3 separate regions of the Homo sapiens genome follow, and regions 2 and 3 are each linked to region 1. Evidence: fine-mapped expression QTL. A gene starts in region 1. Each other region holds a variant in brackets. All regions are shown on one strand. Distances are between the middles of the regions.

The links. PIP is the estimated chance that this variant, and not a neighbour inherited with it, causes the effect. A credible set is the group of variants that fine-mapping cannot tell apart.
Region 2: its variant is the best candidate, but not a certain one, in a credible set for the expression of TRIM35 in substantia nigra (GTEx, PIP 0.82).
Region 3: its variant is the best candidate, but not a certain one, in a credible set for the expression of TRIM35 in putamen (GTEx, PIP 0.89).

Annotation. Positions count from the first base shown.
Region 1 is chr8:27,306,754-27,316,905 of GRCh38, forward strand. It overlaps TRIM35 (tripartite motif containing 35), which reads right to left and starts at 4,519. Exons shown (of 6, transcript NM_171982.5): 1 at 4,048-4,519. The coding sequence starts at 4,482. It also overlaps a transcript of PTK2B not described here. RefSeq lists enhancers at 3,488-3,597, 3,998-4,217, 4,228-4,377 and a silencer at 4,528-4,737.
Region 2 is chr8:27,242,316-27,252,467 of GRCh38, forward strand. STMN4 (stathmin 4) reads right to left here. Exons shown (of 7, transcript NM_030795.4): 2 at 1,396-1,486; 3 at 82-177. The coding sequence starts at 1,408. Among named protein-coding and RNA genes, the nearest start is that of STMN4, 11 kb to the right of the region's middle. RefSeq lists an enhancer at 1-792. The variant G/A (reference allele first, on the strand shown) is at 4,895.
Region 3 is chr8:27,256,589-27,266,740 of GRCh38, forward strand. It overlaps STMN4 (stathmin 4), which reads right to left and starts at 1,816. Exons shown (of 7, transcript NM_030795.4): 1 at 1,763-1,816. The variant G/A (reference allele first, on the strand shown) is at 5,433.

The sequences.
Region 1 (10,152 bases):
GTAACAAGAAAGCTCCAGAGCTCTTCAGAGAAATTTGGGCGGATTAAGTAGTCACTTGGAACAGAGTAATGGGAGAATCAGAAGTATCTTGGCCAGGAGTAGAGATTTTGTTCCAGCAAAATAAAACTTTAGAATTAATATTTTAAGTGGAATGTTATTGATTATAGTTTTGTATTCAGTCTGTTCACTTCCTTTTGTTTTATTGCTTATATGTAGCATGAGCAAGTGCTATTTATACCAGGTTTGCATTTGTATGCATGTAAATAATAACATAATTTAACTCTCACTGGCTAGACTATTTTTTCCTTTAAGAAGAATGCATACTTGTTCAAGTTTGAGAAACGCCAGACTAGGATTTCTGAAGGTCCTTCCAAGCACTGTTCCTTGCTACAGCTCTGCTGTAAACATGATGCCAGGCTCCCAAATCTCATCAGTCCTTCCATCATGCGCCACTGCACCTACGATAAAAATCCCAGCTCCTAAGCAGGGCCCTCTGTGTCCTGTGGGATCTGTCCTGCAGTTCCTCATCCCCACGTGAACCATCTCTCAGTCACTGCACACCCCCACGCTGTGCCCCGCCGCCACACCCCCGCCACACACACACACTGCTCGCCGCCCCTCAATCAGCTCCTCTCAGCGAAATCACTTCCTTGGAGACTCCTTCCCACACCCCACCAAACAAGAGCAGCCTCCCCCTTACAATCTCCCACCACATCCTGTACTGTCCTTCACAGGAATGTTGAGCTGAAACTATGTAATTATTAGTGAGATGATACAACCATGCCCACAAAGGCAAGGTCTAGGACTGTCCGGTCCTGTCCTGGACACAGTACTGGCACACAACCAGTACCTTCTGCCAGCCCTGACAATGGTCAACAGCCACTCCAACCCCTAACACACAGTCAGCTGCCCGCTGAAGTCTGAGATGAGAGAAACCTCTCTCAAAGTCCAGGACCAGTGTGTGAACTGAACAAGGCTCCAGGTGATCTTTAGAGCTACTTGCTCTGTGACTTTGGACAAGTTTCTTACCCTCTCTATGATTCTATAATTGTCTATAAAATGGGGATAATAGCACCTAACTGTAGCAAGCTGAATAATTATTTCCCCGAAAAGATGTCCCCATTCTAATCCCCAGAATCTTGTATGGCAAAAGGGACTGTGCAGATGATTAAATTAAGGATCTTGCTGTGGGGAGGTTATCCTGGATTACCTGGGTGGGCCCAATGTCATCACAGGGTCCTTATGAGAGGGAGGTAGTAGAACTGGTCAAAGAAGTCAAAGTGACAACAGATGCAGAACGGAATGACACACTTCAGAGCTGGAAGAAGGGGCCTCTGCAAGCTGGAGAAGGCAAGGAAATAAATTCTCCCTGGAGCCTCCAAAAGGAATGTAGCCCTGCAGACACCTCGATTTTAGGACTTCCAACCTCCAGAACCATAAGAGAACAAACTTGTGCTATTTTAAACCACCACATTTATTACGCAGTAACAGGAAACACAGGACCTGAAAATACGTTTTTGTGAGCATTAAATTTGTTGACGTGTGAACACTGAAAAGCATCTAGCACACAGTGAGCACTGAAATGTGTTAGCTGGGATGATTTTGACTTTGCTGTTCCTCACATAGATAGTTGGCAAAGTAATCTTTCTCTAAAACACACATCCCATCACAAACTCCCCTGTTTAGAATCTTTCAGAGCTCCCCACAGCACAAAACGGAAAACCCCCTCAGTGAGGCACACAGCTTCTTACCCAGTCCCTTCTTACCAAGTGGTGGAGGGAATCTTCCCATACCGCTCCCCCACAACCACCTACCTTGAATCACACAGAACTACATCTTGTCTATTGACTGTCTATGCCCCCTGCTCAAATGAGAATTCCATGAAGCTAAGAAGAGGCCACAGCACACAACAGCCATCAGTACCCATTTGTCTAGTAAATGAGTGATTTGCACCCTGCATCAGGCTGACCACACCTGGCTCTCATTCTTCTCAGATCCATTTGGGACTAGACTACTCAGCCCCTGACATCATCCTGAGTGTCCACTGACTTGACACCATCATTCTTCTGCTAAAACCCCCAGCTGCTGTTCACAGCAAGGGTGAGCCACCGGCCTCCTGGATCCTCCTGCACGTCCCTCCTCATTCTAACTACCCTTAAATTCCCTCAGTGCCTAGAAAGTCAGGCTTTCCCACTTCTGGACCCTTCCAAATGCTGCTGCCTCTATCTGAAATACCCTCTTTCACCTGGCTAACACCTCCTCTTCCCTCGGGTCTCTGCTGGAAGCTCCTTGAGGCTGGAAATGGTCTATCTTGTCTCCTGCAGTATCCCTGGGACCTTGCAGTACCAGGCATCTGCTGGTGCATGGCTCTCTGCTCTTGAATCCTGGCTTGGCCCCAGCCTGGGGGCTCTGCCTGGGTGTTCTCAGCCCTGACCCCAGCATCTCCTGATCAGCACCTCGGCCAGCCAAATAGGCATCAGTCATGACCTGAACCATGATCCCTCCTTTACCTGGGCCCCAGACCCCTGGCTGGCCAGCACTTATTCCAGCTGTCCCAAATCAGGATCTGTCACTTCTGCCAGTGGAAACAGGAAAAGCATTGACATGGACCCATGTTAAACAAAAAAGATGACAGGAGTAACAGGGTTACTCATTGAGACATGCGTACTGACAGCATCCTTACATTCCCCTTCAATTAAACTTTGTCAAATGCATTTGGAGCGGAACAGACTTCCGTATTTAAAAAGGTATTGCAAAAAAAGAAGGCAGGGCCACAGAGGGGGCCAGAAACCAGGCACAGGGGACTCGGGCAGCTCCTCCTCTCCAGTCCATGCAGCTTCGGGCCAGCTACCCAGTGTTCTCCCAATTGGGGCTCTGACTCATGCATTAGCAGGTGATGAAATAAATTCAATGTTTCACATTCTGGGTAATTTTTAAAAGTAACAGAGGCCAGGCGGAGTGGCTCACGCCTGTAATCCCAGTAGTTTGGGAGGCAGAGGAGGGCAGATCACTTGAGGCCAGGAGTTCCAGACCAGCCTGGCCAACATGGTGAAACCCTGCCTCTACTAGAAATTAAAAAAAAAAAAAAATTAGCCAGGCGTGTTGGTACATGCCTGTAATCTCAGCTACTCGGGAGGCTGAGGCACCAGAATCGCTTGAACCCAGGAGGCGGAGGTTGCAGTGAGCTAAGAGCACGCCACTGCACTCTAACCTGGGCGATAGAGGTCTCAAAAAAAAAAAAAAACAAAGGGAAGTAACAGAAAATATCAGAGTGCCATGGACATGTTCAGAAAACTTTTGTTTCAACTGATACATATGTTCTGGGTCACAAGGGAAAATGCATTGCTTCCTATGGGCTAAGATTAAACGTTTTGGAAAATGCTGAGTTAGGCTAACCCTTATCTTCTATTCATTTTTCCTTCCTATATCAAAGAATTCTCCATGTTAGTTTTGCCCTGTAAGTTGCTCCTGGGTTTATGTATAGTCACTAGAACTCTAGATATGGAGATGCTGCTTTATAAACCAGAATAGGCCAGCCAGCCAGGGTCAGAGACCTCTCACTCAGATAATACAAACCGCGGGATCAGCTTGGCAAGTAGGTGACTGGTTTGGGGGAAATCTTAAGACTCCACACCCCTGGCCAGGTCTGTGGCTCCTCCTCCACTTCTAAATTGAGTGTGCCAAGCTACAGGGCTCGTGGGCTGCACCCACATCCGTGCCGCTTAAAGGGACCTGGGCCACACCCGGCTGGCACAAGGGGTGCATGGCCTGGGCCCTTCAGAAGCAAGTGTCGCTGTCTTGGGAACATCATGTAACCTCATCTGTCACTTTCCGTTCGCATTCTCTTCTCCCAGCACGGGCCCCTGGGCCGACCTTGAAGAAGCAGCCAGCCCTGAGAACCTGGGTCGGAGAGGTGGGGTCCTGCATGCTGGGAGCGAGACGCGGGCACACTGGGCTCTGGCAGGCAGGAGGGGCGGGAGCCGCAGAGCCAAGGGATTCCGGGTTCCAGACCCGGCTCGGCCGCCTCGTGCAAATCGCTGCTCTTACCCGAAAGTCGTGGGCAGTGTCCTTCACCGGCTGCACGCGGTGCCCCTGGTGTCGGGGGTCGGCCTGGCAGGAGCAGCACAGCAGCTCCTTGTCCTCGAGGCAGAAGAGGCTGAGCTGTCCGCGGTGCAGGCGGCAGACACGCGAGAAGCGGTAGCTGGTCCAGCGCGCGCCCTCGGCCTCCTCGCGCAGCAGCTTCTCCACCAGGTTGTTGAGGGTGTGGTTGGTGCGCAGGTCGGCGGGTGACGCGCGGTCTTTGCACACTGGGCAGGTGGGCGACACCTGCACCTCCCAGCAGCGGCTCACGCACCCGCGGCAGAAGTTGTGGCCGCAGCGCAGAGTGACTGCGTCGCGGAAGGGGTCGTAGCAGACGGCGCAGAGCAACTCCTCCTTGAAGGAGCGGGAAGGCCCGGGGGACACGTCGGGACTCCGCTCCATGGCACGAGCAGCCGGCTCGGGCGCCCGGAACTTTTGCTCCGGCCCCTCCCACCCGCCCGGCTGCCAACGCCCGCGACCCGAGTGCTGGGAATCGCCCAGTCCCTTCCCCTGGAACGCTGAGAGACAGCGGCGCTGGCCAATCGTGCGGGGGGGATGGCGAGGGGGAGGGAGGGGGCGCTCGGAGGAGCCCCACCCACTTCCGGTGTGCGCGGGAAATCTTGGGAGAGCGGGGTGGGCCTTCTGCCCGCAGTTCCCGCCTCCTCAGGTCCGGGCGGGTCCCTGGCCGGGGTAGCACGGAAGGGTCTCCCAGGCGGCGTAGTAGGGCTTCCGTGTTACTGGAAACCTACTTCCGGCTGCAAATGGGAAAAGGAGCCTCTACCTTAACCAATCCCCGGGAACCTCAGGCCCGCGGATGGGAGAAACCAGAGATGCCAACTTCCTGCTTCCGAAGTAGTGGCTGGGTCTTAAAGCACCGTGAGTGCAATCACCACTTAAGTTTGCAGCGCCTTTTTGAGGACCTATGCCACTCTTGCATTAGTCGTTTACTTATTTTGGCCAGTCTTCTTCTGGCCCGCCGCGGTAAGGAGAAACAAGAGAGGGGTGGCGGCAGAAGAGCTCCGAGAAAACCTGATTCTTGTCCTGTGGTTGAAAAAGTGAACAGGTCATCATGTTTCAAAGTCCATTTACTCATGAGTACAATGGCTGTAATAGCTCTGTTTCCATGAAGTGTGAGGATAAAGTGAAATAAATGTGGAAAGTGCTCATGACAACCACTGTTTTAATGGGCAAGTGCCCATTAAAACAGTGAAATTGAGGACTTCTGCAAAGTTTAGCTGAGATAACTAGAGTTCATGCTCAATTCTTGCCAGGTACAGTAGGCCTGGATGGTTCCTTCAGATCTTCATTCCTGCTTCAGTTTGATCACTTTACAGCCTCCAGATGCAGAATACTTTTCACACGATGCACTTTCATTCCTTTTCTATTGGGAGACAATTCACATGTGTCATGTTCCTGCATGTCTTGAGAGAGCAGAGGCACTGACTGCCTTTTTCCAACTATCTTTTCAAGGATGTTTCTGCATTGAATAGCCCTGGAAGACAGAATTCTTGTCTCTCCAAAGATCTGGCAGACTTATTCCCAATTATAAGAGATGTGAGTTTCCTAAACTTGGGGCCCCTCTCCTGTAATGCAACCTACTGTAGCCTTCATCACATAGTCTTGCAAGAATTAGGGCTCAGAAACTGGCCCAATGACAATACTGTGACTACTATTATTGCTGTTAGTATTATCCTTTGTCTCTGACCCAGGAGTTTCATCTTTTAGCAGTATTCATGAAATTTTGGCATGCAAACTTGTTAGTGTTGAAACTCAGAAAACAATACCCCAAAATGGCCTCAAAAGCAGAAATTTTTCTCTGCCCTCCTATCTCTCAGTCCCCCAAGGATAGCCATAGAAATTAGAATTCCTTTTCCCCAAGGCAGGTCATAGAAACCAGAACCCCTTTTTCCTAAAGCCAGTCTTGAAACCTTAAAATATTACTCTTTCTCTCTGCCTTTCTGTGGAATAACTGGCCATAAAGAAATTATCTGACCTACCTTGTTTGACTGTAGGCCATAAGAGCCCGATTCCAGAGAGGGTCCTACCCCATACCTGTTAGGGGTAGAAGGTGTCTGAGTTAACAGCAGTGAATCTGTATGGGTCTGCAGCAACCTCAATTCTTGCCTCCTTGGAAGAAAGAATTAGACTGAGGGGCATGATATGGTTTGGCTGTGTCCCCACCCCAAATCTCATCTTGAATTGTAATCCCCATAATTCCCACGTGTCAAGGGAGAGACCAGGTGGAGGTAATTGAATCACAGGGGTGGTTTTCCCCCCATGCTGTTCTCCTGATAGTGAGTGAGTTCTCACGAGATCTGATGGTTTTATAAGTGTTTGGTAATTCCTCCTGTGTTCATTCTCCTTCCTGCAGCCTTGCAAAGGAGGTGTCTTGCTTCACCTTCACCTTCCACTGTGATTGTAAGTTTTCTGAGGCCTCGCCAGCCATGCGGAACTGTGAGTCAATTAAACCTCTTTCCTTTATAAATTACCCAGTCAGTCTAAGGCAGTTCTTTATAGCAATGTGAAAATGGACTAATACAGGGCATAAGGCAGAAAAAGCAACTGAGGCAAGTTTCAGAGCAAGAGTGGAAGTTTATTAAAAAGTTTGGGACAGAAAAGAAAGTACACTTGGAAGAGACCCAAGCGGGCAACTTGAGGGACAAGTGTGGCATTTAACCCTGATCCTGGGACTTCATATGCTGGCCCACTTCTGGAGTCTTGCTGCCCTCTCCCTTCATTCTTCCCTCAGTGTGAGCTGCCCGAATGCACAGTGCCCTCCCTATGCTTGGGAGGTGAGCATGCACCATGTGCTTAGGAATTTGTACACATGCCCATCTGAGGCTTTCTTCCCTTTTCCAGTGGAATGCCCCCGGAAGGTCATACTCCACTATTTTGTCTCTTAATGTGCATGCCCAAGCTCACTCACCCAATTTCTGAAATTTTATTGGAAGCTGATTACCAATCTCAAGTGTTTTTATCTGTTTGGGAAATTGCCTATGCCTGGCACCTGCTTTAATATCAATTAACATCAAGTAACACTTTAGTGACAGCTGTGGACCATCAGGGAATTGTCTCTCTCCCTCTCTCTGGCCCATCTGCCAAATTATCCATTTTAGAAAGGCAGTGTGATAACTGTGAAACCATCACCTGGCATTCTTGCTTGAGGGGATTGGGGAGGGTAGAGTCCTCTCCTGCCCTGCTCATGCCTGTCTAACTACCTGTAACATACCTGGAAGGAAGAAATGCATGTTCGTAGAGGCCAAGAAAAATCTAGACAGACAGGCCTAGGTTCCCCACTCAGTTTATTAACATTAGCTCATACCCTTTTGTTCAATCATATTTCTACACAGCTACTCATACTTTGCTGAACCTAAGCATGAAAATGAGCCATTTCCAGTCTATCTTTAGGTCTTCATTCTGAAGGCTCCCATGTCACATAAAACTATGATCAGGCCAGGCATGGCGGATCGGGCCAGGTGCCAGTGGTGGCTCACACCTGTAACCCCAGCACTTTGGGAGGTCGAAGAAGGCCTTGAGCTCACAAGTTCAAAACCAGCCTGGGCAACATAGCAAAACCCCGTCTCTACAAAAAATACAACGGGCGCGTGTGGTGGTGTGCGCCTATAGCCTGAGGCAGGAAAATAGGGTCTGGAGGCAGGGAACATAAGGCCAATTCACACTTCAGCTGCGACAGCAAATATCCTCCCCATAGGGCGTAGGCCAAGTAAATAACTTTGTAACTTTACTTCATCCTCTCCATTTACATAGGGCGTACCCCAGGTAACCAATGGAGTCCTCCAGAGGGTATTTAAACCCCCAAAAGTTCTGTAATGGGGCCTTTGAGCCCCTATCTCAGGCCGGTTCCCACACTGTGGAGTTTACTTTCATTTTCCATAAAACCCTTCATGCCTTCCCTGCTTAGTTTGTGCGTTTTTTCCAATTCTTTGTTCAAGATGCCAATAACCTGGACACCCTCCACCATTAACAGTCCCAGCTACTCTGGAGGCTGAGGTGGGAGAATCGCTTGAATCCGGGAGGTGGCAGTGAGTCGAGATTGTGCCAGTGCACTCCAGCCCAGGTGACAGAGCCAGACCCTGTCTCAAAAAAATAAATAAACTTCTATCCCTTTCCTCTTCTTAACCTTTTTGTCAGTGATTTGCAGTGAAACTTCAAGGGGCAAAGGAGACGTTTTCCCTTGGCCCACACATTAGCTTGCAAGTAGGGTAAAATCTCAGACCTTTAAAGTTCTTAATAATTTCTTTCCACACTTTTCCTCAGCATAGTCCTTTCCTCACAATGACAAGGGATGAATACCACTAACTCTAATTGCCTTCAGTGTTTCTTAAATGTGGTTCATGGTTCTCCTGCAATTACCTGGGGAGTTTTCTAAAAGCAGTTTCCTGGGCCCACTTTAATCTACTCATCTCTCTTGTGGAAAGTGAGGCCCAGGAATCTTCATTTTCACTTGCATGCTAGGTGATTCTGAGGTGCAAGAAAGTTTGAAAGCAATTATCCTAGATCTATTCACCCAACAAGTTGTTGGGTCTCCAGCTATGGTTGGTTAGTGGTTCAAAAATTAACCTTAGAGGCAATATCCAAAAAAGCCACAAGATGGGGCTAACAACGCTACACTCCAGATAGCCCTCTCCCCTCCCCCCAACGCAGAGACTCTTACGTCGTCTCATTCTCTTTCACTGTGTTCTCTTATCTCTGTGTCCCAGTTGTGTTGTGAATCGATATGTGTTGCTGTCTATGTGTTTCATTCTGTTCTTACCTGATCTTCCTTATTTTGTTGGGTCTTTTTTTTTTCTCATATTCTGAATGGGGCCACAAATCAAAAACAAGAAGGAAGAGTAGAAATTGTATCTTTTAAACTACAATACAAAGGTTAACATTAAACCAATAAGGCTCTTCAATCATTCTGGAAATCCAGAAAGGACTTAGTTCTAGTCCAAGCTCTACCACTACCCAGGGGCAGGACCTGGGGCATATTATTTCACTTTTCTAACTTGCTTTTCCTCCACTATAAAAGAAAAGATGGAACTAATTGCTCCAAGTTCTGACCAACTTAGATGCTCTGAAATTGTTTTATTCTTTGCATATGGTGGGGGGGTGGGTAAGGGTGACTAAGACTTAGCCAGAGACCAGGAAAGAGAAATCTTGGTGACTAGAACCAATCTGTCACCAATTTATATTTCTCCTTTCAATACAAAGGACCTTATTCAGAGGTCCTTATTGATGTTCAAGTCCTATGTATACTAGCTAATCTTCTGCAAGAGCTTACTCAAAAGTTCTCATAATCTCTAATTTCCTGCATCCCACCTCCCAAATGCCCTGCCAAGCACTGCCAGATTTCCAAACCCCTTGCCATCACCATGTAAATTTGTGTAAGGAATAACTTTTTAAATTGTTAAGAAAATAAATTCCCAGGTGCAGAGAGTAAAGGAGGAAATTGCCTTGTTTTTTTTTTTTTCTGAAACAGTGAACTAGAAAGTGGCTACTGCAAATAAAGGCAGAGATTGTTAGATTATATAAAAAGGCAAGACTCAACTATATGCTGGCTATAAGGAACTTAACTTTAAATGTAAGCATACAGATTGAACTAACAGGATGGAAGAAGATATACCACACTAATGCTAATAAAAACAAAGCTGGTTTGACTATGTTAATATCAGACAAAGCAGATTTCAGATAACAAAATATTGGGATAAGGACAACAGTTGCTAAATAAAGTCAGCCACAGGGCTGGCAGCAGCATCTTCGGAAACAGGCATCCTGGCACTGCAGACATAATCGACCTTGTTCATCAGAGTTACCAAGTAAATCTTTGAGGAAATCACTGTAGTCCGATGTACCTTTACTGAGGCCTAAACTACAGAAACAAGGAGGGTGGGAGCTCTCAGTTGATCTGAATAATGCAGGGAGAACTTCTGTGAGAAATAGTGTTTAATCCAAGTAACTAGGGAAACACTGAGGGTGGTAAACTGCCTGCCTCTGGGTCATATTTGACTGCAAACATCTTTTATTTGACCTATACTTTTTTCTGTCTGTATCATTTATGATCTTTTAAGC
Region 2 (10,152 bases), 64 kb before region 1:
CTGGGGTCGGGGTGCAGGACCTATGAGGACAGGACACAGGGCCCCCCCGCCCCTCACTTTCCTGGCTGAGCCTTCACTGACCTTCATATTTGTAGGACGACTTATTCAGGGGATCGGCCAGGAAGCAGGAGCAGAACAAGGACACCAGCGGGAGCTCCTTCATCTTCTCTTTGTAGGCTGCGGAAACACCCAGTCAGGTGAGGATGGCGCCTCTCCTAGCCTCAGAAGTCAGCGTCCTCACGGGTCTGGGGCTCTGAGCAGCCCAGGGTTCCATAAAGGCACTCAAACCACGCAGGCACACGCCAAGCCTGGGGATCCAGGCCTTTCGCCCTGAGCCGTGCTGTTCAGGATCCCTGTGTGGGATTCGAACCCACTCCTGTCTCCTGTGGAAACCTAAGCCTTCCAGAGCATCAGATCCTTCTCCACAGTATGTCTCCTCCCCTTCCAGACCAGAAAGCAAAATGCCCTCATGGAAAGGTCCCAAGCACCAGTGCCTCAGCTCTCCATCCCCCAACATCTGCCCCAGGACATTCCGATTCTTTTTCTCCAGGACACAGGAGACCCACACTCCATTCTACTCCAAATACCTGGCAGCGCTGGCCTGCAGGGTTAAGGAGCTGGATAGGAGGGGACCGTCCTCACCACCATCCCTCTGGTCTGCCCCTCACAAGGTCAGGCTATAAGCCTTCTCTGACCTTTCCAACACAGTGCACAGAGCCTGGGGGTCGCTGGTGTCCCCAAAAGCTGGAGCATATCCCCGCCACCCTCTAGTCTATCTGTGTTTGGGATGTCAGGGGCCAGAGCTGTCCTGGCTCCTGAAAGTCCCTCTCCTCACCGCCTTGGGGCCCGTGTGTCTGGCTGCTCAGGTTGCAGCCCTTAGCTGACCCCTAGCACAGCGCAGGTGTTGCCCCCATCCTCATTTGCTTGTACAATTTTTTGTTGAGATGAGGGTCTCAATATGTTGCCCAGGCTGGACTCAAACTCCTGGGCTCAAGCGATCCTTGTGCCTCAGACTCCTGATACTGGGGACTATAGGCATATGCCACTATACCTGGCTTCCTTTTACAGATTTGAAAATACGTGTAACTGCAAAAATAATATATAGGCATCATAAAAACTTAAAAAAAAACACACATATACAGATGAGCAAAAGGAAGAAAATCTCAGCTGTGACACACCCCCCACCACTTGTTCAACTTGTCGCCTGTGGTGACAGGCAGTGGTGTGCCTCCCGCCACTGCCTGCATGCCCCCAAGCCTCCCATCACTACCTGCACCCCCCCACACACCCCGTGTGCTTCCTGCCAGCTGTGTTCTTCCCTGCTTCTGTGAGTCCATGTTGGGTGAGGGCAGGGGGAATAGCCTACGCCCCTTAACACATGGTTTTTGTACCTACCAGCAAGGGTCATGTTTCTGGGATCTGGTGGCTGAATCTAGCTGAAAGTTACAGAGTGGGTCTGTCACCAGCTTGGGACGCTGTCACCAACCTGAGAAAAGGGGAGGACAGGATTTTACCATCGATGGATTAGACAGGTTATTCTCATAAGAAAGGTCTTTATACACTGGGGAGGGAATCTCAGGGGTACCTCATTTGCTCTTCCTCCAGGCCCTCTCCCCACCAACTCTCCCTGGGGGTCCCCTACCCCGACCTCCCTCCCACAATGATGCTAAACAAGCTCAGATTCCATGAACTAATGATACTTCATAATTGGCTTTCCAGTCTCAAGCCCCCTAGCACATGCAAGCGTGGGTTTCCCAAAAACGTATGGATCAAGGGGTGCTCATCTGTCTCCCTCCATAGCTCAAGAACCTGGCCCAATTCAAGGGTTAGGGTGAGAAGCAAATCCTCCTGCAGAATCAGCTGGGAGGCATTCATAAAATAACTGTGTGTCCTGGACTTCTCCCCGCACATGCCCCAGAAGTCTTTGGGCCAATTCTGATATGGGAAGAGAGGGAATTGGACATAGGATGTTAACAGGCCTCTTCAGATGCCTCTCACCTTCCCTTTCCCAAGACGACTGACCTAAGCTGTGTTTGACCCTATTTAAGACAATCCGGGACACAGGAAAGAAAAACATTAAGGAATCATGTCGTCATCACAGGGCCAGCCAGCACACCACCAGAAATCAGCGTGAGGAATTGCTGTGGGACACAGAGATAGGGCTCCACACCACCAGAAATCAGCATGAGGAATTGCTGTGGGACACAGAAATAGGGCTCCACACCCCCAGCATTTGCCAGGGAGCCTGGGAGGTGTCCCTGGTGTCGGTAGCACCTGAGCAGTGCCTTGAAGGATGAGTTAGAATCAGACAGGAGCTGGCAGGAGGGCATTGTGCAAGGGAACATCACGGCCAAGGGTCGGGGTGAGAACGCCACTCAGTGTCCGTGGGATCAGGTCAAGCTAGTTGACGCTAGATCAGAAAGTGGAAAGAGGAGGGGGCGGGGCAGGAGACAAAACAGGAGAGTCAGGGAAGGAGCAGATCTGGGAGGATCAGAGGGGTGGAGGTGATGGGAGCCCATGAAGGCTACTACAAAGAGAGTGAGGAGCAGCCAGCAGTGAGTGGCCATCCTCAGGACCATTTGATCCTCGGTCACCCTCTGTGGTCACTGTGCCAGGGGAGGGTGGCGAGAGCCAGCAGGCTCACTGCCTACATCCTTGCCAGCCAAAGAGACTCTGAGACCCACTTCAAACCCCTTGCCTTTCTGTGCTGGCTGGAGACTGGCAGGAGGAGGTAATGGGGCAGTGAACTCAGCTCTGGCTTTAGGGCTAGACCAGTGTGGGGTCAAATACAAGTATCACCTCTCTTACCAGCTCTCGCTAGTCTCTTTCTCCATCTTAATCCTGCACAGAGCTGTACAAATTAAATGAGAAAAACCCATGCATAGCATCCAGCAGACAGGAAGCACTGAATAAATGTTAGTCTCTTTGCCCTGTCTTTTGCATCAGGACAGCTATCAGGTGCCACATGCCTGCTTCAGAGCCATTACCTCTGGACCCACAAGTAAGGACTGTTGTTGCCATGTGCGGATGGGGAAACTGAGGCTCAGAGGGTTTATGTGCCTGCTCAGGGCAATGCAGCTAGCAAGTTAGAGTGCCCATTTGAACCGAGGTCCAGCTGGACTTAAACTGCTTTGTTCTCCTTGTTCTTGTTGTTGTGCTTTGGAGCCAGAGGCCCCTGTCATTGCAGCACAATGGGTCTTCTCTCTGCAGAACTAAGCTGGTCCTGACGGCACCAGTGAGTCCCTGAACAGAGAGGCAGGCCTGGTGCCTGCATGCGACTTCCCTGGTCATGACACCCCATCCCGCAGTCTCTGCTCATGGCCAGGCTGACTGACAAGTCACTGGCAGAGTTAGTAAGCCCTTGCCAGAGTGGCAGTGGCCTTGGACTTCTACCTGGGGAAAGGATCAGAAGTGGAAGCCTGAATAGGTGGAGGGGAGGCAGAGAGGGATGCCTGAGAAAGAAGGCAGATGGAGTAGGAGCAGGCAGTTGGAGTTATGGAATGTGCCTCCAGCCCGAGCTAGAAATGATGATAGGACCCTGTGCTCAGGGGGCACTCGACACCCACCACATTATCCTAGTCTAACTTTGCATGAAGCTGGCTTAGGCTGACAAGACAGGCATCATCAGCTTTGCTTTCAGATGAAGAACCTGGGGTTTGGAGAAGTTCAGACGCTTGCTTAAGGTCACACAGCTCTAAGGGTGCAGAGCTGGGTCTAGTCTCCAGGTCTCTCGACTTGTAAGCTCTTCCATTGTAACCAGTGGAAGAACTAGATACTCACTAATGCTTTCTCTATGGTCCTGAGGACTCACAGAAAGCCAGCCTGGCCTGGGGATATGAGTTAACTTTAAAATATGTGGTAAGTGCTTTCTACATGGAAGGAAATGGGCTAGGAGTTTTAGGAACACAGAGAAGGTCAGAAAGCCAGAAAAGGAAAACCAGGGCAAGAAACGAGATGTTGTAGAGGTGGGCAGAGGTATGCATGGTCATGATCAAGGGATTTGCAATGGAGACCTCTCAGTGTTAAAAATGTGTGCTTACTGAGCAGCTGCTATGTGACAAACTCACTTTAATTTTCGTAATAGCCTCGTAAGGCAGGAATTACTATCCCCATTTTATAGAGAATGAAATCGAGGCTCAGGGAAGCTAAGTGCCTTTTCAAGGCCATTCAGTACAGTAGGTTAAATAATGTCCCCTACATGCATACATGCTCATCCTAACTCCTACAACCTGTGAATATGAGCTTATTTGGAAAGAAGGGCTTAATGAAGGATCTCAAGAAGAGACATTCCTGCTTGCCTGAGAAAGCCTTAAACCCAATGGCAAGTGTCCTTATAAGAGAGACTGAGAGAAAAGGCCATGTGCAGACGGAGGCAGAGATGGGAGTAAGGCAGCCACAAGCCAAGGAACCTTTGGGGCCGCCAGAACCTGCAAGAGACAAGGACAGATCCTCCCCTGGAGTCTTCAGCAGAGTTCAGTCCACTGACATCTCAGCTTTGAACTTCCAGCCTCCCGGTTAGTGGTAAAGTGATGCAGTAGCCCCGGGGAAACTAATGTCCTCAGGAAGTGACAAAGCCAGGGCTCAAACCCATGGTTTTTTTCACCTCAGGTACCAGCATTCATACATGGGCTGATTTATTCCTCAAAATGATCTATGTGGCCAGGCGTGGTGCCTCATGCTGTAATCCCAGCACTTTGGGAGGCTGAGGTGGGCAGATCACTTTGAGGTCAGGAGTTTGAGACCAGCCTGGCCAACATGGTGAAACCCCATCTCTACTAAAAATACAAAAATTAGCCCGGCATGGTGGCGCATGCCTGTAATCTCAGCTACTAGGGAAGCTGAGGTAGGAGAATCACTTGAGCCTGGCAGGCGAAGGTTGCAGTGAGCCGAGATC[G/A]CGCCACTGAACTCCAGCCTGGGTGAGAGAGTGAGACTTTGTCTCAAAAAAAAAAAAAAAAAAAGATGATCTATTTACTTGTGCCTGTGGGTCCATAGGGCCCTTATAAATCCTCATGCCAACAGTCACATCATTTCTTTTGCACTCAAGACCCAAAAGATATGCCCAGGGGACATTCTGAGAAAGGACACAGAAGATAAAAAGGTGGGAAGCAGAGGGCACAGAGATGAAAGGAGTCTTTGCCACTGGGTGGCGCCAGCCATGGCAGGAAACCCAACTTTATCCCTAATAACCTGTGGCATCTGCGCCCAGTGGGGCCAGTCACATGTCCCTCCCCAGCACCTGGCCTGGTTGTGTGATGCTAGGTTGTCTTGTGGGGTTTGTTAAATGGCCATGGTCATGTTATCATGCCACAGCAATATACAGCCTGCAAGGGAGCGAGGGCCACCAAACCTCTCCTGGAACTGTCAAAGAAGGACAGTAAAGGTGTTATGCCCAAGGTCAGAGCACACAGAGTGCCAGGGATTCAGGTGGCATGATGAAGATGAAGAGACAATAGAGGCCATAGGAAGCATGAGGCAAGGAGTGCAAATCCTCAATGGGAGATTCTATCCAAGACGTCAGCCAGCAGAGCAATGGAAGGCAAAACCCAGTGCAGAAGCAAACCTCCATCCCCATCCCTCAGAGGTTCCTTATGTGTTTTCTGTTAGGTGAGAGCCAATCCTAGCCCTTCTATTGCCCCTAAGGAAGACCAGGAAATTCATTGCATCCAGCAGCAACAAAGATCAAAGGAGCCCCAGACAGAAGGTCAATGTGGCAGTCATTCAGCCAATATCCAGAACCAGAGCTAGAGCTCAGGATGGCAGGCCCTCCAGCTCCTGCCTGGTGGTCACTGTCAAGCACTTCTGATGGACACAAACTGGTTGGTCAAGAGCCAAGGCCTCCCTGGGCAGCTGAGCCCCTGTGCTGGCAGGGATTGATCCAGTGGAGCAGGTAGAGAGAGGACTCTATTTATTTATTTATTTATTTATTTAGTATATAATTCTGTGCCAAGCCCTCTGCTAGATCTTCAGATGGCAAAGATTCGAGTGTGGCCTCATCCCAGACTGTGATGAGGTTACTATGCAATTGAGGTTCTGCAGTGCCTATCACCTTGCAATGACTGTGAACCTGACTGTGTGCCAGGGATGTGGACTGGGTTTACTCAGGAACACAGGAGGCCCACTGGGCTGCATGCAGGGTGCAGTGGGACAGAATGCTAGAATAGGAACTGGAAAATTGCAGAGACCTCTGGACCAGTGAAGGACTTTGTGCTTTATCTCCCACCCAGTAGGAAGCCACTGACATCTTTTGAATGAGGGGAGAAGAGAACAGTGATGCTGATAATAATAGCAATAATAACAACTACCATTCTTGGGCAGGAAAAGCACGGCTGTTATCTCATTTTTCTATTAGGTTCTTTGAGAATGAGGACATTGAATCTCAGCAGTTAAGTAAGTTATACCGTCGTCACACAGGTAGGTAGGGGCAGAGCTGGGATTTGAGTCCTCATGTGTTTCATTGGAAAGCCTCTCTGTCTTTAGGTTCTGCTGCGAGTGTAAAAAGATTCATCTGGCAACATTCGTTTGGGGAAAAATTAGGAGGGATAGGCTGGAAGCCAAATAGCAGTCTGGGTACAAAGTGTGGGTTGGACCTGCTGGATTGAGTTCCACTCTGAAGTTTTCACATCTCACCCAGCACTATTTTTCCATTTACAAACTGATCCATACATTTCCCCCAGCACCAGCATCTAAGAGTCTGTACAGAAAAGCAAGGAACCAGAGCTTTTTGTTGATGGCTTGAACCATTAGCATAATTGTTAAGAAATAAATTAGTGGGTGATAACCCCCCCCAAGCACAGAGCCAGCCGTAAGGAAACACAGAATGAGTAAGTTTTGATTGGAGGCAGACGTGGCTGAGAGTGAAGTTGTAGGCTGTTGACTGAGGAGGGATCTCACGGTGGGACAGTGGGGAGAAAAAGGTGGTTAAAGTGAAGAGATCAGAGCCCTCGATTTCACCCAGAACATTTGAATGTCAGAGATGGAGAGAACAGGCAATCACAAGCCCATGGTTCTCGACTCAGTGCAGTCTCACTCCCGGGAACTACATGGGACTTTTCAATGGTCATGAAACTGAGGATGCTACAGGCATTTAGTGGGCAGAGGCTGGCGAGTCTAAATGTCTTGCATTGTATACATCAGTCCCACACGATAAACAACTGTCCCTTCCAAAATGCCAATAGCCTCCTACTTGGGGACCAAAGATTCTGAGGTCACGCAGAGAACTCCTGGCAGAGATTGGATGGATTCCAGTGTCAATGCCCTTCTCCTTTATACTTGCTCCTTCTCTGTCCCCAAACACCATCCTGGATGAGAGGGGACAGCCCACATGGTCACCAGAGCAGCTCTGAATGAGAAGATGGATACACAGAAGGGAGACCCCAGCAGGGCACTTTCATGCAACCCACACTTCCAGGCTTTCCGTAATTCAGCTGATGTCCAGGGGGCAAACAGAAAAGCACCAAGTTCTCAGATGACACGTGGCCACCTACTGGGTGTATGCCTGACCTCTTAGTGCCTCTGACTGCCCATACGACAGAATGAACAAGCATTTTATTGGTCACTGTAAGAAATGCCCCAAGAATGCTTGCAGGATGTGTCAAATTCCATCTGGACTATTTTTGAGGGATGAGCAGATAATGCATGTCCCAGTGGCTTGAACAGAGTTGTACCTGGCAAGGGTTTCGGAAGACAAATCTAGAAACTCTGGCCAAGAATCAGGATGAATACCTCATGGTTGTGGGGGCAATGAATTCTGCCTGAGGTCCTCTAACCACAAGCAGTACAGGAAGGTGGTTCTTTAAGTCTGTGCCCTATTGCCAATCTTCTTCAAAATCCAGTTGAGGTCATATATTTACCCAAAATTAGCTGCATAAGCTATCTAAATGCCACATTTATTTGCTTTGGGATGAATCATGTCAGCTCAGAACAGTGGCCCTGGTTATTTCATGCTGATCAAAAGGCTCTGATTGGCAGCCATGTGTCTTCTTTGGGTTTAAAATCAAAAGGAGATAAATTATTTTTTCATAAATGTGGTTTTCATTCTTTCTACAATATTTACTGAGTATTTAATTATGTGCCAAGCCCTCTGCTAGATCCTAAAATAACCACAGGAGTTTTTGTTGGTGGAAAAGTAAAACAGGTCCCTGGATGGGTATCTAGAGCCATTGGAGCCTTTGGAGGCTCTGCAGATGCTCTGCGGGCCTCAGCATGGTCTTCCGCGATAATGTGGACCATGCCATAAAGGGAGAAGGAGTGGGAATTAGAGTGCAGACCAAGAAGGAACCAGCGAGACCTACAGAGGGAAACTGGGCAAAACAGAACAGTGTGTGATTCACTGGGTCTGGGGAAACTGGCATTGTTTAATCACCTCTTAGGCTCTTGCTTCCAACAGCATCTAGAGGAAGAGATGATGGGGACCTGGACAAGGGCAACTCCCAGAGGGTACCCAACAGGCTTAGGCTTCTAGGAAATAAGCACCTATGACAAAAGCAGAACTCTGAAGGCCTGAATCTGAGGAGTCCTTCTTAGCACTAACAGCTATGTTAAGAGGCAAGTCAGAGAAGGAAAATTAAACTGGAAAAGTGACAGCCCCAAATAATCCACAATGATGGGATTTTCTGGGCAATTTTTATTTCCAATTTAATATATGCAGAAGCGGCTGAGTGCGATGGCTCATGCCTGTAATCCCAACACTTTGGGAGGCTGAGGCAGGCAAATCATGAGGTCAGGAGTTCGAGACCAGCCTGGCCAACATGGTGAAACCCCATCTCTACTAAAAATACAAAAATTAGCCCAGCGTGGTGGTGCATGCCTGTAGTCTCAGTCCCAGCTACTCGGGAGGCTGTGGCAGGAGAATCACTTGAACACAGGAAGTGGAGGTTGCAGTGAGCTGAGATCATGCCACTGCACTTCAGCCTGGGTGAAAGAGTGAGACTTCATCTCAAAAAATAAATATATATATATACACGTATATACGTATATATATATACATATAATATTATATATATACGTATATACGTGTATATATATTATATATATACATATGCAGAAGAATCAGCATCACAGAAGTCAAGTTCAGGGGCATGGACTTCCATTCTGGGCTGCTGGAGAGTGTGCAAGGCATGTGACCCAGGAGTTCTGTGAGGTCCTGGGTTAAAAGCACATGAAGCCATCAATATACAGGGCAAGCCCTTTTAATCTTACTCCCAATAACAACAATGTGATTGAATATTGCTTTATGATTACATCTATAGGCATATGTGCATCTTATAAATAATGCTTTAATTACAAACATATTCACATTATATTTTGGAAATTCTATGTAACAGAAAAAAAGAAAATAAATCCTTGTAGTCTTGCTACTTTATGCTATTGGCATTTTCTTCTAGGTTTTTTCCCCTCTGTCTACTATTTTTACATAAGCCAGAAACCAGGGCTTTTACAAAAGCAAGGGAATCTACATTTAAAAAAAATTTCTTTTTTGCCATCTTTTTTTTTCTTTTTTTTTTTATTATTATACTTTAAGTTTTAGGGTACGTGTGCACATTGTGCAGGTTAGTTACATATGTATACATGTGCCATGCTGGTGTGCTGCACCCACTAACTCGTCATCTAGCATTAGGTATATCTCCCAATGCTATCCCTCCCCCCTTCCCCCATTCCACAACAGTCCCCAGAGTGTGATATTCCCCTTCCTGTGTCCATGTGATCTCGTTGTTCAATTCCCACCTATGAGTGAGAATATGCAGTGTTTGGTTTTTTGTCCTTGTGATAGTTTACTGAGAATGATGATTTCCAATTTCATCCATGTCCCTACAAAGGACACGAACTCATCATTTTTTATGGCTGCATAGTATTCCATGGTGTATATGTGCCACATTTTCTTAATCCAGTCTATCATTGTTGGACATTTGGGTTGGTTCCAAGTCTTTGCTATCGTGAATAATGCCGCAATAAACATACGTGTCCATGTGTCTTTATAGCAGCATGATTTATAGTCCTTTGGGTATATACCCAGTAATGGGATGGCTGGGTCAAATGGTATTTCCAGTTATAGATCCCTGAGGAATCGCCACAAAGGGCTAATATCCAGAATCTACAATGAACTCAAACAAATTTACAAGAAAAAAACAAACAACCCCATCAAAAAAAATTTTT
Region 3 (10,152 bases), 50 kb before region 1:
ATGTACATTTGTACACACAAATATACACATAACTGATATGTAACTAAAGACAGCATAGGAAGCATTAATTATCCCATTACATGAGATGTGCTCTAATTATTTTCTACTCTTATTCCATTTTATTAAAACAAAATACCATTTACAATCCATAAGTTGATTTCACAATGTACTAATGGGTCTCAGCCTTCAGTTAAAACACTAACCTAGACCAATCCCTAACATAATGCAAAAATCTCCTCTAAAGCCTCCCTGCTGGGTGGCCATCCAACTTCTGCTTGAATGCCTTCAGTGACAGGGAACTCACTCCCTACAGGGCAGCATGCTCTATGGTAGTCCCATCTAGCACTTGCAGATCCTGCTCACTCCAGAGCTGTTCCAGGAGTGGCCTGGGTGGAGCTGAGAATGCCAGGAGGGCTGGGACCAGCTGACAGGTGCTCAGTGGTTTCCAAGAGGGGTGAAAGTACAGCTCCTAGCAGCAAAGCGGAGGGTTGGGGTGAGCCAGAGACTAGGGCAGCATTGCTGGGAGACTCTGGCTTCCTTCTGTGGAGCTGCAGATCAGACCTTTTCCCCTCTGCCTTCTCACTGCTCCAGCACTATGATTATTTCCTCATCTGAAGGATGATCTCATTCCCCTAGCACCCGCCTGTGGGAGAGGTTTCCTCCCCCTGGGAGGCGGGGGCTCAGCCTCAGGTGGAGACAGATTCCCTCATATTCCCTCTCAACCTCCCACCCATCCCTCGAGCCTCAGCAGGCCACCTCTGGCCATCCCACCTTGTATTCTCTTGGTCTTAAGACAGGGGGTATCCCTTCCCAGGGCATTCAGATAAGGGTGCCTGAACATTCCTGACCTCTCCCTCCGACCCCCATACAAACACACACACACACACACACACACACACACACACACACACACAGCATTCTGGAGACCTGCTCATGTTCAGGACAACAAGACTCCACCACACCTGATTGTGTCTTCCTGGGAGAAATAAAACAAAGACAGCACCGCCACGTGGGGACAGCTGACTGCTGGACATCAAAACCCTGGGTCCCAGGATGAGAAATGAATGATGCCTAAACTCCTGGCAAGTGTGGTGGGCTGAATAAGGAGGGGGACTGGCCAGGGCCCCAGTCAAGGACCAGGGCGTGGCAGTTCTGGGTGTCTGCAGTTTTCAGCTTTGGAGCCAGCCACCTCTGGCCAGGTAGGATTAGGCTGACCTCAGGGTGGGGCGGGGCCAAGAGGAGGTGATGATCTCATTGCATCCTTAGAACCAAGAGAAAAAAGTAACCCGTGCATAGAGCCGAAGGAAAAGATGTGTGATCAAAATGGGAATGGGAGACAAGAAAAGCTGTGTCTGAGGAAGAAAAGGTAAAAACACAGGAGAGCTTCCCACTTGAAAGGGATCTTCAGGTCACAGCCAGCTGCAGGGGCAGCCAGACTCAGCACAAAACCTTTCTCCTTAAGCAACAAAACATTTTTATGCAGAAATAGCTCACCATAGCATCTGACAATTCCCACCCATCCTGCCTCTCCTGAGCTCTGGAATAAAAGTGGCACCCGGAGCCCACCCTCACCCCTTGGCCGAGCGCCATTCTTTCTGCCTCACCCCCTTTCCCCCAAGATCTGACAAAGTTTAAATGATTGAGTAGAACCAAAGGTGACACAATAGGTGCTAGGCCCCTCGCTTCTCCCCACTGTAGCTGCTGTCTTGTTTTTTCTTTTGCCTGAAAAGCCTCAAATTAGTTGCATTTTATTTCTACTTACGTGCAGTCCAGTTAGAAGCGAGCTGCTCTCTTCCTCACTCCCTCAATTAGTGGTACCCTGGGCTTCTCTCAACATCAGCACCACTGCTCGCTCTTGCCATGACATCACCTCCAAGCTCTGTGATTGGCCAGCAGTGGGTTGCTTGGCAATTGGACAGTCTCCTCTGGTGGAGCAGGGATTGCCTGAGTGAGTAACTCTTAGCAGGCCAGGGAGTGAAAGATGATGTCAGACAAAGAGCCTGCTTTCTCTGCTGCCTGTGGAGCTGGAGAACCAGAGGGGTGAGGGCGGAGAGGAAGAAAGAAAGAGGGAGTGGTACAGAGAAGGTTGGGGAGAAGCCACAGCTTGCGAGCTGGGGGTATAATGAATGATTTCCAGGATCTTTAGGTCCTTTAAATTTGGGGGTGAGAGAATATGGAATCCAGAGAAGAAATAAAAAAGAACAGATGAACCCTAAAAATAGCTTCCTGGAGGGCTTGGTGCCTGTTTCCAGCTCTGTCAGAAGGGCTGGTGGGTTTGAACGATGACTCAGAAGGCGGGGGGTTGCGGGGACTGCAAAAACCCCAGGATTGGGAGCTGATGAGGGCCCTGCACTGGAGTCTCTGGAGAATAAGGCTTCCCTCTGGCCACCTTTGCAAAGGTATCAGCCACATCTCTGCTGACACTAGTGGGTCCTCACTGCCCCTCCCATCCAGCCCTCCTGGGCCTTCCAGAGGGAGCCACAGGTAGGAAGATGGACTGGTCATTACACTGGTGATTCCCAAATATGGTGGATTTTTTAAAATTTTCAGTAAGTTTTTGGGAAACAGGTGGTGTTTGGTTACATGAATAAGTTCTTTAGTGGTGATTTCTGAGATTTTGGTGCACCATCACCCGAGCAGTGTACGCTGTCCCCAGTGAGTAGTCTTTTATCCCTCACTCTCCTCCCACTCTTTCCCCCAAGTCTCCTAAGTCCCTTGTATCATTCTTATGCCTTCGCGCCCTCCTAGCTTAGCTCCCACTTATGAGTGAGAACATATGATGTTTGGTTTTCCATTCCTGAGTTACTTCACTTAGAATAATGGTCTCCAATTCCACCCAGGTTGCTGCAAATGCCATTATTTCATTGCTTTTTATGGCTGAGTAGTATTCCACGGTGTGTGTGTGTGTGTGTGTGTGTGTGTGTGTGTGTGTGTGTATTACATTTTCTTTATCCACTTGTTAATTGGTGGGCATTTGGGCTGGTTCTATATTTTTGCAATTGCGAATCATGCTGCTATAAGCATGCATGTGCAAGTATCTTTTTTGTACAATAACTTCTTTTTCTCTGGGTAGATACCCAGGAGTAGGATTGGTGGATCAAATGGTAGATTTACTTTTAGTTCTTTAAAAATTTTTCACACTGTTTTCCATAGTGACTGTACTAGTTTACATTTCCATATGGTGGAATCTTGAGGGGGGGTGACGGGTCAGCGATGGTGGCTTCTGTAGTTCCCTCAGGGAATGAGGGAGCCACTAACATAACCTTCACAGGCTGCTGCCCTCAGCCAGTGAGCTGGAGAGGGCAGGGTGAGGCAGGAGAGGAGCCAGGCAGCTGTGGAGCGAGACCCCCTCCTCCAGAACACCTCTCCAGATTAAATCCCCCCAAGATGTGTCCATCATCCCCACATTCCACCGTCCAGCCTTGCCTCATGTGTTCTTCTTGGTGGGGAGGGGTAATTTTTTTTCTTTTTTTTTTGAGACAGAGTCTCGCTCTGTCACCCAGGGTGGAGTGCAATGGCGTGATCTCGGCTCACTGCAACCTCCACCTCCCGAATTCAAGAGATTCTCCCGCCTCAGCCTCCTGAGTCACTGGAACTACAGGCACGCACCACCACACCTGGCTAATTTTTGTATTTTTAGTAGAGATGGGGTTTCACCATATTGGTCAGTCTGGACTTGAACTCCTGACCTCGTGATCTGCCTGCCTCAGCCTCCCAAAGTGCTGGGATTATAGGCATGAGCCACCACGCCCAGCCGGGGAGGGGTAATTTTATTGAGGCTGAACATGTCCAACATAACGCTCACCATTTTCACTATTTTGAAGTGTATAGCTCACTGGCCTCAAGTGCACACGCATTGCTGTGTAGCCATCACAGCTTTCCATCTCCAGAACTTTGGCATGTTCCCCAATATTCATATGTAACCAGTAAGCAATAACACTCCTTTCCAGCTAACCCCAAACTACTTTCTGTCTCTATGAATTTGCCTATTCTAGGCACCTCGTATCAGTGAAATCAAATAGTATTGTCCTTTTGTATCTGGCTTCATTCTCTTGGCATGTCTTCAAGGAGCATCCATGTTGTAGCATGTGTGATAATTCCATCACCTTGCTCCTCCCTCCTTTTTTTTTTTTTTTTTTTTTTACAAAGTCTTGCTTTGTCATTGAGGCTGGAGTGCAGTGATGTGATCATGGCTTACTGCAACCTCTGCCTCCCAGACTCAAGTGATACTCCCACCTCAGCCTCCCCAGTAGCTGGGACTACAGGCATGTGCCACCACACCCAGCTAATTTTTTATAGAATCAGGTTTTCACCATGTTGCCCAGGCTGGTCTCAAACTCCTGGGCTCCCACCTGCCTTGGCCTCCCAAAGTGCTGGGATTATAGGCATGAACCACCACGCCTGGCACCTCACCCTATTTTAGGAGGGTTTGTTCACCCTCTACCACCAAACCCCTATTGACTGAGAACACGAATAATGACAAAAGTTGCCTTGAATTCAGCCCATGCTTTGAAGTTATTATTTTTAAACTACAGTAGCATCAATGAGCATTTGAAAATCATAGTTAATGCATGGATGTCACATGTTCACCCTGCAGACTGTGCTGGGGATTAAGTAGATTCTCAAGCCCTGGCATGAACCCCTGACCTGCACCCCACTGCCAGGACCTGCAAGCTGGCATCTCACCACAGCACCCCGTGTGGTTCTCCAGGAGGCCCCATGTAGACACACATCTCCAAGCCCCCACTTCACATCCAGAGGGGAGGGCTCCAGTTAGGCTGCCAGCCCCTGGCCAAGCGGTGGCCAGGATGAGGAATGAGCCCTGACAGCCTTTGGGGTTTTCAAAGCACACCAGAGCTGAATCTATGGTGTAATCCTTTCAGCAGGGCTGCAAGGACGGCAGGACGAACACTGTGCTGTTTGACATTCAGTGAGTATCACTGAACAACACACTTATCATTCATGCCACATGCCACCAACCCAGGACCCTCAGCCATCAAGCTGAGCCTTTTCAGTGGGAATCAGGACAACTAAGGATATCAGAAAGTCATTCCCTCAACATGTGGAGACAGGAGAGGCCACACTGCATACCAGGCTGGAATTTGGAGTCCAAGCAAACCCCAAATGCATGGCTATCCTAGCTGTGAAGGGGGCCTCTCTGTCCTCCCCTAGTATCTTCCCTCCCAGCCCTGAGAAGTCTGGAACTCCACAAATCTGCTGGCTCTGGAAAGTGAGGGATGGGGAGAGAAGGCAGTAGGTTGCCATGGTGATGGCAGCCAATCAGAGATCCTCTGCTGCTAGGGGAGGAGCAAGTTCGGTCTGAGTCCCCCTCACTGACTGTGAAGGAGGGTGGAGCTGGAACAGGGGGAGAAAGAGACAGGACATCACTGCCTGACAGCAGAGACCAAGGTCGGGGAGAAGGGTCATGGGGA[G/A]GGTGGCTCTATTTCTAGGATTACCTAGTTTCCATTTGGTACTAGGTTGTGATGGTTACACACACACACACACACACACACTCAGTACATCTCACAACTGCCCTGTGAGAAAGGGATTACCCACCCCATTTATAAAAGAAACAGACTCCAATAGGAAAGGTAACCTCAAACAGCCTACCTGTTATGCAGCGAGGCCTGGATTTGAACTCTGGGGAACGGGATGCGGGAGACACTGGCGAGAGAGTGAGTAAGGTAAGCAGGGTAGAGCCACGGCCCCAAAGACCTACTGGGTGGGAGAGTCCCTGGGACTTCCCTGAGATGGCATAAAGCAATATGTTGATAAAACAAGAAACACAGAAATGGTAAGAAAATGTACCAAACACCAAGTCCATAGAACAAAGGGCGAGGAGAGACCAAAATCAGAAAAGAAATCAGCAAGGTCAAAACTAGGAGGCTCAGAAGGACAGGATGGCGATCAGGGAGCAGGTGGAGGGGAAGGCGAGGTGGGCGCTCTGTTCCTCACACCGCAATATGGAAAGCCCCTGTGAGCCTTGTTGAGAAATGTGGGCTGGCCCTGGACCTGCCAAGTCAACTTTGGGTTAGACCTGTTGCTTGTGATCAATCTACCCAAATGCTGGACTTTAGCCAAAGGGGCATGGGGCCCACAACGCCCCTCTGCAGACACCACCTCTCACAGCCCAAGTTGCACTACAGCAACAATACTAGGATGGAGTGTGTGTGGCCATTCCCTGAATCCCCACGCATTGCCTGGCTGCACCATGCGGACCCGATTCCTATATCTCTGCCCAGGAATCCCAGGGCAGCCACTGCTTGGTGACTTGACTCACCATATAATAACTCACACTCACAGCCTCTCAGGCACAAAGGAAGGGGCCCCTGCCCTTCTCAGAGGTAGTTCTATCATAGGACCAGCTGGGAAGTCACCCTGGGGACCCTCATGGAGCCTGGGATCTCTTCCCAACCCTCAGAAAAAGTGGACCTAGTCTCACATGGGAATTCAGAATATCTAATCCATACATGCATGTCTCTTCCACTCACACCAATGTGGTTTGTAAAAACTATAGAACATCAATGGGAATTTATCAATGGGAAATTGCAGTTTGTGGGATTTTCTTCTGTAGAATTTGTTGAATTGAACATTATCAGTTATTGACTTGAAACAAGTAAAAACATGTTTGCACTATGTCATTTTAAAAATGTGAACTCTTATTTCACCTGAAGAGTGGCTGTCCTGACTCACATGCTCTGGAGTCACTAGTGGCTTAGATTTTCCTTCAACAAATTAAAACACAAATCAATTCAATCGATTTGAATCCAAGCAAAGCTGGATTGCTAGAGCTGTTTGTTTATGTCCCTGATTAGATTTGTTAACTAAATTGTAATGGTGGTTAATATTTATAACCACAACATATGATGTTTATAAAAGCAATATTTATCAAGTGAGCTAAAACCTGTAAATCACTTAGAACATTGCCTGGCACAAAGTATGGGCTCAGTAAATGTTAGCTATTATTATGATGTCATTAAATACAAGAGCAGACTGTGAATGAGTCTTAGGTTTGCAAGTAACAGAAGCACATTCCAAGATTGTTTATTTAAAAAAAAAAAAGACAATTTATATTAAAATCTAAGAGTAAAACAAATTTTAAATACTCACTAGGCTCTCACCTATAATCCAAGCACTTTGGGAGGCCAAAGGGGGAGGACTGCTGAGCCCAGGAGTTCAAGACCAGCCTGGGCAACATAGCAAGGACCCCATCTCAACAACAACAAAAATATTTAACAAAAAAAAAATTTAAAAAAATTTGGTTCACAAAAACAAACAAACAAACAAAACCCATTCAATCCAATTAGAAAAGGGACAAAAGATATGAAGAGATGTTTCACCAATGAGGATATACAGATAGCAAACATATGCATGACAAAATATTCAACATTAGTATGATAAGGCAAGTGCAATTTAAGACCATGATGAGGCCTTAGTACACACCTGTGAAAAAAGCTAAACTAAAAAACAGTAGGCCAGGCGCAGTGAACTCACACCTGTAATCCCAGCACTTTGGGAGGTCAAGGTGGGCTGGATCACTTGAGGTCAGGAGTATGAGACCAGCCTGGCCAACATGGCAAAACCCCATCTCTACTAAAAATAAAAAAGTAACCAGGTGTGGTGGCACGTGCCTATAACCTCAGCTAATTGGGAGGCTGAGGCAGGAGAATCGCTTGAAACTAGGAGTCAGAGGTTGCAGTGAGCCAACATTATGCCACTGCACTCCAGCCTGAGAGACAGACAAGACTCAGTCTCAAAGAAAACAAAAAACAAAAAACAAACAAACAAACAAAAAAACAGTAGGCCAAGTGTGGTGGTTCACACCTGTCATCCTGTCATCCCAGCACTTTGGGAGGCCTAGGCAGGCGGATCATTTGATCTCAGGAGTTCAAGACCAGCCTGGGCAACATAGTGAGACCCCTGTCTCTATTCATTAAAAGAAAAAACAATAATGACAATACCGAATGCTGGTGAGAATGCACAGAAACTAGATAGCTCCTGCATTGCTGGTGGCAATGGAAAATGGTACAACCATTCTGGAAAGTCATTTGGGGGTTTCTTAACTAAACATATACTTGCCAGATCACCAAGCAATTGCATTCCTGGGCGTGATTCCAAGAGAAATGAAAATGTATTCACACAAAAATCTTGTACACAAATATTCATCACAGTTTTATTCATAATAACCCCAAACTGGAAACAACCAACATGTCCCTCAATAGGCGAATGGATAAACAAACTGTGGTTCATCCGTACCATGGAATGCTATTTGGTAATAAAAAAGGATGAACTGCTGATACACACAGCAACTTGAGTGGATCTCAAGGGAATCACGCTGAGAAAAAAAAAGCCAGTCTCAAAAGGTCACAAAGTGTATGATTCCATTGATAGAATATTCACAAAAGGACAAGACTATAGAGATGGAGAACAGACTGGTAGTTGCCAGGAGCTAGGAGTGGTGGAAAGAAGGAAGGATCACTCTAAAAGGGGTGGCAAGAAGAAAACCTTTGTGGGATGGAACAGTTGTGTGTCTTGATTGTGGTGGTAGTTACACCAGTCTACACATGGGATAAAATGACATAGAACTATAGACACACATTGCACCCATTTCCTGGTTTGATATAGTACCACAGTTATGTAAAGTGTAACCACGGGAGGAACTGAGTAGAGGGTAGGTGGGACCTCTCTATTATACTATCTTTGCAACTTCCAAATCTGTAATTATTTCAAAATAAACAGTTACTAGAAAAGGGGAGAAAAGAGGAGTTGGGAATTCTTTATTTAACCCAAAACGGAGGATTCCTCCCAAAAAAGAAGAGTCAGGAAAGCAATCACAAGTCAGTTCTTTCTCTCTCCCTCTTTTGTTCTCTCTCCCTCTTTCTCTCTCCCTCCCTTTCCTTCTTTCTCACCCTCTTTCTCCCTCTCCCTTTCTCTTTCCCTCTTTCTTTCTCTCTCTCCCTCTTTCTCTCTTGCTCTTTCTCTTTCTCTCCCTCTTTCTCTCTCCCTCTTTCTTTCTTTCTCTCTCTCCCTCTTTCTCTTTCTCTCCCTCTCTCTCTCTCCCTCTTTCTCTCTCCCTCTTTCTCTTTCTCTCTCTCCCTCTTTCTCTTTCTCTCCCTCTTTCTCTCTCTCCCTCTTTCTCTCTCCCTTTCTCTCTCTCTCTTTCTCTCTCCCTTTCTCTCTCCCTTTTTCTCTCTCCCTCTCTTTCTCTCTCTCCCTCTTTCTCTCTTCCTCTCTTTCTCTCTCCCTCTTTCTCTCTCCCTCTCTTTCTCTCTCTGCCTATCTCTCCCCTCTTTCTCTCTCTCCCTCTTTCTCTCTCCCTTTCTCTCTCTCCCTCTTTCTCTCTCTCCCTCTTTCTCTCTCCCTCTCTTTCTCTCTCTCCCTCTTTCTTTCTCTCTCTCCGTTTCTCTCTCTCCCTCTTTCTCTCTCCCTCTTTCTCTCTTTCCCTCTCTCTCTCTCCCTCTTTCTCTCTCTCCCTCTTTCTCTCTCTCCCTCTTTCTCTCTCTCTCCATTTCTTTCTCTTTCTCCTTCTCTCTCTCTCCCTCTTTATTTCTCTGTGTCTCTCTCCTCTCTCTGCAAAGCTGCGTCATTCATCTTTGCAGACCACCTTCTGTGCTGCTCATGCATGTGGCTGCCTCACAGCCATGAAGGATGCCAGTGCTTTTTGGTGGTGCTAGTGTTCGTTGTAGTTGGGCCACACAGAGAAACCCATTAGCCCTCTCTTAGATTCAGTTTAAAGCTCTCAGGAAAACAAAATCCACTAACCCTGCCTGAGCCTGGAGTCCATGCCTCTTCCCATGGCAGTGGGGTCGCACAGTACAGATGTAACTGCCTCCGGGAATATGGACGCTTCCTCCTTTCTACACAGAGGTGAGGTCCTGATCCCAGGAAATGCCCCTTTCTCCTCCAGATCAGTCCCAGATGGATGGGTCTATAAAGCAAATGACAAAAACCCACCATCTATAGTCCACCTGATAGAGAACACTGGGAGAAAGGCTGGCCAGTAGCCATAAAGCTTTCCCACTTAAACACAAAGAAGGAAGGACCCTCAAGACAGAAGCCCCTGGGCAGGCTACTGGTGTTGAAACCACCTTTCCAAAAATTACACACTGAGAAAATGATGGCAGTGGGAGAGATCTGATCTAGCCAAACCCC